2 linked regions of the Homo sapiens genome follow. The protein of the gene in region 2 interacts with the protein of the main gene of each other region in a pairwise test. Each region holds a gene or a part of one and is shown on either strand. Other genes may lie near its edges.

Region 1 (3,755 bases), on a different chromosome or scaffold from region 2:
AAAATGCTAACTTAGGGGGATGGTGTGGGAAAATGGCTTCTTCCTCTTTTTCTTTGTTACACACACACACACACGCGCGCGCGCGCACAGTTATAAAATATAATACATAAAGAATGAGTATTGAAAAGTATTATCCATTGCACATCAAAATGTTAAGATCCAATACAATTAAGGAAATAAAACAAAACATACTGTTTTATGCATTCTGGTATGCCAACGTATTCCATGGGGACAAGTTCTGCTAGTTCTGCCAAATTAAACACGTATCTAATTTTTTGGCTGAATTTCGAGCTATGGAAGAAAATAAAAATAATTACTTCCATATTTCTGACAAATACAATGGATACAATGTTTACAAGATACAAAAATCATGTCATTTTGAATGTTCAAAACACAAAAAGATGATAAATGTCTGAGGTGATGGATGTACTAATCACCCAGGTTTGATCATTATACAATGTATACACATATCAAAATATAGCTCTGTATCCCATAAGTATGTATAGTTATTATGTGTTAACTAAAAATAAATAAATAAAAAAAATAAAATTAAAGTCAATGGCTCTCAAAAATTACCTAATAAATGGTCTTGTAACAGCCAGAAGTGTTCTGATAAACCAAGAAGGATGTACAATGATTAGGGATTTTAGATTTTTCCGTAACCTGGAGTTTAAAAAAAAAACACACACACACAAAGAAAATTAAAAATTTCTATAAATTCTAATGCTGCAAGTTTATACAAAATAATAGTTGAAAAATCTCACCCAAAAGTTCTCAATTAGGTGTGATACCCCTGTAGACAAGAAAATGCACTCTTAAATTCTTATGGTCCCTCCTACTGCTATGAAATGAACTTTACTTCATTTGGCCAGATTTACGTCCACAGTATAGCCTGTTACTAAATGTCTCCTAGCATACACATTCACTTGTCTTCAGGACTCTGTAAACAGGGAAAGAGGCCAATACTGAATGTAAAAGTAAACTATTCTCATTTTCCAAGACTAGGGAGAAATTGGTGCTAAGTTCTTCAAAACCATGAAAAGCACTGTGCAGGCAGAGAAGTGTGAGTGGAGAAGATGACCACAGGAACAAAAACAAATCAGATCTAACTCCTATTCTTAAGGAATTTAAAGTTTTGATTAAAAATTAAAGGTTTTATCCTAGACTTCTCCTTTTTAAATGACTAAATACTCTTTGTATTATGCATATTTCACACATAAAGTGAGATACATATATAATCATAAGAGCTAGCCAATGTCAAATTTAGATGTGAAGAGAAACCTATTAATGGGTCTGACTTGATTTAAATTAGCCACAGCAAGATCAAACCAATCGGAAGATCACATTCCTTCCATTAAGTACTGATGACTAACTCCCAAGACAAAACACTTCTAAAGCTTGTTCCAAAGAAAGATTACAACTAAATAAGCACCATTAAAAAACATAAATACTGAGCGCTGTGGCTCATGCCTGTAATCCTAGCACTTTGGGAGGCTGAGGCAGGTGGATCGCTTTAGTCCAGGAGTTCAAGAACCAGCCTGGGCAACATGTCAAAACGCTGTCTCTACAAAAAATACAAAAATTAGCTGGGTGTGGTGGCACATGCCTGTAGTCCCAGCTACCTGGGAGGCTGAGGTGGCAGAATAACCTGAGCTTGGGAGGTTGCCGCTACAGTGAGCAGAGATTGCACCACTGCACTCCAGCCTAGATGACAGAGTGAGACCCTGTCTCAAAACAAAACAAAAACAAAAACATAAAACATGCTAAGCACTATAAATTAGGCAAAACTCAATGTAATGAAATAGGAAACATACTACATTCTCCATCCTTTGCCAAGACGTAAATAATAGGAAAAAAAGTGTTCAATGTGGAGAAAATTGCATCTTATAAATAAGGAGAAAGTCTTCAATTAAATAAGGAGAAATATAAAGCTACTTTGTAAGTTTGAAGAATTAAGGTTATTCTTTATAGAAAAATCAAAATTGATTTCCCTCACAATATTCTAAAATGCTATCTTTAGAAAACAGAAACCTGCCATGAAATAAATAAATAAAATTTAAAAAATAAATGGTGTTTTAAAATAGCAACAGAAGGCTGGGCGCGGTGGCTCACGCCTGTAATCCCAGCACTTCAGGAGGCCGAGGCGGGTGGATCACCTAAGGTCAGGAGTTCGAGACCAGCCTGACCAACATGGAGAAACCCCGTCTCTACAAAAAATACAACATTAGCTGGGCGTGGTGGCGCATGCCTGTAATCCCAGCTACTTGGGAGGCTGAGGCAGGAGAATCGCTTGAACCTGGGAGGTGGAGGTTGCGGTGAACCGAGATTGTGCCATTGCACTCCAGCCTGGGCAACAAGAGTGAAACTCCGTCTCAAAAAAAAAAAAAGTTAAAAAAAAAAAATAGCAACGAAAAACAAAGTTTGATTTCCTAAAGCCATTATAAAATTTTTTCAGACTAGCTTTCAACTTGTATTTGTATTACCTTCTATCAATTTGCTGATAACATTTCCTGAGCCATCCCAGACTGGGCATTTTTCTTCGAGTTGTTGCACCATTTAAATAAACTATCATGTAGTTTTCTGCTACTAATAGCTCCAAAGTGCCAATAACATATCTGTAAAAAACAAATTAAGTTTAAGCCTTAAAAATCACTGTGCATAACTGAACTAGGTTCTCTAAATTGTACCATTATACAATTCCTTCCTCTCTCCTACAATGAGAGCAACAATGAAAATGCTCAAACCGCATTAGCTAGTATTACGATTATCTTATTTTTTAGAGATATATTTTGAAATGTTTCTAGGTGAAATGATTTGCTCCTGGGATTTGCTTCAAACTTGTAAACTGGGGGTTAGAAGTGGGAACAAAGTATAAATTGGTAATTGTTGAAGTGACTGATACATGAAGATTTGATATACTTCTCTTTACCCCTGTGTATGTCTGAAACTTTCCACAATACGGTTTTTAAAAACTGCACTAACCTGAGAAATAGAATGACCTTGTGGAAAAAGAACTGATTTGGCTCAATTATATTGGCCTTCTAGGGGTAAATGTAATTTAGCCACATGATTTTGAGACAAAAATCACTTCTTTACACTTAATGTGCCTGCAAATGTTAACATAAAACAGTTGGGACAGGTAAGGCATGGTGGCTTACTTGAGCCCAGGAGTTTGAGACCAACCCTGGCAACATAGTGAGACTCTGTCTCTACCAAAAATTAAGAAGTCAGCAGGATGTGGTGACATGTGCCTGCAGTCCCAGCCACTAGGGAGGCTGAGGTAGGAGGATGGCTTGAGCCCGTGAGGTCAAGGCTGCAGGGAGCCGTAGTTGTACCACTGCACTCCAGCCTGGGTGACAGAGTGAAACTCCATCTCAAAACAAAACGAAACAAAGTTGGAACAAATAATCTGAGATATATTTCCCAGTTTTAAAATGACAATTTTTCTCTTGAATTGGAAAACTATCGTTCCATAATATCAAAGAATAAGGACTCATCTAGTCCTGTATCTAGTAACAAATACTTTTACTTTAACCTTCATTCTGTTGTTCACAAACTTGCACGTGAAAAGATCTGGGATATTTATTTTTCTGAGACAGGGTCTTACTCTGTCACCCAGGGTAGAGTGCAGTGGCAAAATCACAGTTCACTGCAGCTTTGACCTCATGGGCTCAGGTGATACTTCCACCTCAGCCTCCTGAGTAGGTGGGGCTACAGGCCCATACTACCATGCCTGGCTAATTTTTTGATTTTGT
Region 2 (3,755 bases):
ACAACTCTAAGTCTAATAGCATATGGTCCAACAACAATTACAAAAGTCACAAGGACAACCACAAGACTCTTTCTTAAACACTCAACAGTTTATTAAAAACCACAATCAAGCATTTCCGCTTTAATAAATTGTTATATAAACATTCTGATGTTGTGGTTTACCCTGGCCTAATGAGGCATTCTGATTCATTTCTAGTGTAACAGAGTAAGATAGAAAACTGAGTCATTAACACAGCATTCCCTTGTGAAAAAAGACAAACCAGGATGATTAAAGCAATGTTGAAAGGGCTGAAAACCCTGAAATTGGACATATTTTTTTGCCCTTTTATCTGTCTGCAAAGTCCATGTAATTCATTACATGTGTTAGTTCATTTTAAAAATACTCCATGGTATTTTTTCTCTTTTAAAAAATGCCAATGGTTGAAACCAAGGAAACATATATTAAACCATTTCATACAGAGTATAATTGAAAGGAAAAAAAAAGAGAAAATATTTCAAATTTCCAAGACAGAGGATATGCTTAAAATATTCATAAGCTTTTAAAAACTAAACTAGATCCTCTTACTCTGATGAAAGCTAAAGTGAGGACTAGACTTCAATCCTATAGGACTATATCAGATATCAAAAATTTTAATGGAAAGAACACAGACTTGGTGTCAGAGTAACAGTTTTGGCGAAACCACTCAGATATTTACTTTGCTAGATGCTGAAAGATGAGCAAAAACACTTCCAAACATTAAATAGCTGAGGGTTTCGCAGCAAAGACTAAAACGTAAATAAATAATGCAAGAACTGCTCTAATGGCACACGAACAAGGTTAACTAGTAGGGCAGAGTTAAGGAAGACTTCACTGAAGAGGAGACACTTGAATTAGCACAAAAGAAGAATAAATACAGCACTGAATGGGGTTGTTTTGAGGCTTCAATGATGATATACATAAAAGCCCCTGGAACAGCTGGCAATAAACATTAATTAAATCATACTCCTTGTTCAGATTCAATTTCCCCAACTCACCGAGCGTATGAATAGTCTAAGCTGGCCTGATCAATCCGGTTCCTGAGAATTCCAATGTCAGCTGACACCATGTCATCTAAAGCCTGCAACTCCTTCTGGATCCGCTTTAGTTTCATGGTCTCTGCCTGAGTTCTTTTGGATCTAGAAAATCAGGTATGTGAGTGGGAAAATAAGAACATTTTAAAACCATGTGTCCATATACAATGTAAGTGAAAAAGCAAGATACTGCATATACATTTATAATTTATATTTTAAAAGTTAGAAAAAAATCAGAAAAATTGAAATAAAGTAAAAGCTGGTTAACATTTGAGTTTTTGAAATTTTATATTTGCATGTTTCATAAAGTAACAAATAAGTCTAAAAAAACTCAGCAAATAGTTCATTTTAGATTGATATTCATTCTGTAAAGAGAACAAACACTAAAAGAATATATCTGTGTTCCCTTTACATTGAAACATTCAACAGAGCTTTCCAAATTTCTAGTCTTTAATTCTTCCTCTTGCTAAGCCCATTTTCATTTGTCTGATACTTACCTGACATTAAGAACAGATAGATGTCTATACTAAACCACACCTCTTTATATATCTGAGAACATCCACTTAGTTTTAACTTTCTTGGGACCCATTTCCCCAAACTTTTATTGCTTTGATTCTTGTTCTCTAGGAAAACTACTAGTTACGAAAATTCTTTATGGAGCTGAACATCAAAACACTCATTTTCCTTATTTAAAAGCACATCCAACCTCATAATTTCTCAATCCCCTCTCCCAAGTACAATATATACTTAAGAAAGGGAACAAACAAATAAAAAAGCAACCCTTTAATCATGATTTCACTCATTTCAAATTTTCACACACATTGTGAAGGAAGAAGAAAAATCCCCACATAAATCCACCATGTTACATAGCACATTCTCTTGATTTCTACTCTTAGGCATTTACCCTTCCTTTCTGCCTACAAAACTTCACTTAACAGTATGATTCTTTTACGTCAAGTACTTCATTGTCCATTTATTAATAGTTCAAACGTTGTATTTCCTTACACTTCTGTTTATACTGGTGCTGTCTAAAATCAAAAGCACTTATGAGAAGAACTGCTGAGCCTGTACATCTTTTTGTAAAACCACAGAAAACAGCCTTCCCATCTCTTAGAAATTGAAGACTACTAAAATGCTTTAATTATTTTTAAATAATCACTTACCAAAAAAAAAAAAAAAGAGGGCACTACTCTTTTATCTGCTGGTTTTTTCCTTTGAAACATAGTAACTCAGTGAGTTGCATTATTTCCTATGCTTCAAGAAAGATCAAGGTGTACCAGTAGTAGAAAAAGAAAAATCACCATTTCTCAACTACACTCACTCCTCTGGCAGACAAAATTCTGAACTACTCTTATACCCATCACCTTCTTCCCTCTTCTCCTGCCCCTACACATACTCTAGCTTCAAGCAGTAACAGTTTGACAGACTTTTCTGGAAGTCTAAAAAGAAAATGTACTTCCTTGCATTTAGTTTTCACTATTCACAACCATGGATATATTGACTAAGTTTAGTTTCCTAAGGCCACAGGAGATTAGACAGAAACTACAAACTCAGCAAGAGTGGTGGGGGATGGGAAGAATGATTCCAATGGGAATGTTGTTGTGTGCGGCTGGTACAATGCAGTAAATGTGAAGGGGCTGCTGATAGACACTGGAAGGTGAAAGAAAAATTGAATCTCACACAGTGCTCATAATAATGACCCTGAGTCATCAATAAAAAGTTAAACTATATCATGTATCTTCTACTTGTGGAGGCGGGGCAAATTATTTAAGAAAAATGCCCATAGGAAATCCAATTAAGATTCATGGGAGTATGTCACTTATGTAGAAAACCTTATTCCTCTACACATCAAATGATTAAGGCCTCCCCACATAAAAATTAAAACTTGCATTTGTTGCTAATTTACATATACTGATAGCTATTTACTGCTTCCCTTATGAATGTGTAGATGGTTAAAACTGGGAGCACTAATGAAGGTCTTTAAAACTGCAACTATATTTACAAATTTAATATGCTCTATGCTTAAAAAGTTCTCTTTAATAAATTATAACTAGTATTTCAGTATCACTTATAAAGCATAATTTGTTTAGTTAGTCTTAAAAGTAATGGTTGAAGAAAAAATATCAGTTTATTAAAAGAGACATGGGAAAACAAATATAACACATGACACAACTGGTTACAGGTTACAAACAGCCTCTCCTGGTTCAGGTGCCTCACCTTTCTGCAATAGCTTTAGCCAAAAGAGCTTTTTTACGTTTATTTTTCTCTTCCATTAGCCGTTGTTCTTGTTGGAGGACTTCCCAACGAGATTTTTCTTGCCTAGGGGGCAAAAAAAGCATAAAAATGAGTTTATGAAAGAAAAAGAAACTGCTACCCTATCCAACACCTTACCAGTCTCAGTCCTCTAAGTATAAAATTTAATCAAGAAGATTTATGTATATGTTCTTTCAAAAGTCCTCTTAAAAGAAACCCATCTGCAGTTCATTATTTTGCTCTAATGGGAACAAAGACTACGATCTAAAGTAAAGAGGCTTACATAAATTGGACCTCTGAAATCCATTATATATATAATCTAGGAATCCACAAACTGGAAGCCAGAATACTGTGGCATGTGTTTAGGAGTACAAAGAAATTTGTGTAAGTTAATTATGTATTATATGCAGAATGGAGATTAATAAAAATTGGTTTGTAGCTGATGTCATATTA

Evidence for each region. The genes of interacting proteins can lie anywhere in the genome.
Region 1: the proteins of GORAB (region 2) and BNIP2 interact in binary tests that used the Homo sapiens proteins (3 or more experiments, as listed by UniProt).

The regions. Positions count from the first base shown.
Region 1 is NC_000015.10:59,668,700-59,672,454, forward strand, and holds part of BNIP2 (BCL2/adenovirus E1B 19 kDa protein-interacting protein 2), read right to left. Parts: intron 2,616-3,755; coding exon 2,484-2,615; intron 664-2,483; coding exon 577-663; intron 292-576; coding exon 193-291; intron 1-192.
Region 2 is NC_000001.11:170,542,104-170,545,858, reverse strand, and holds part of GORAB (RAB6-interacting golgin), read right to left. Parts: intron 3,369-3,755; coding exon 3,267-3,368; intron 1,155-3,266; coding exon 1,014-1,154; coding exon of another isoform or gene 1,010-1,013; exon of another isoform or gene 68-1,009; intron 1-67.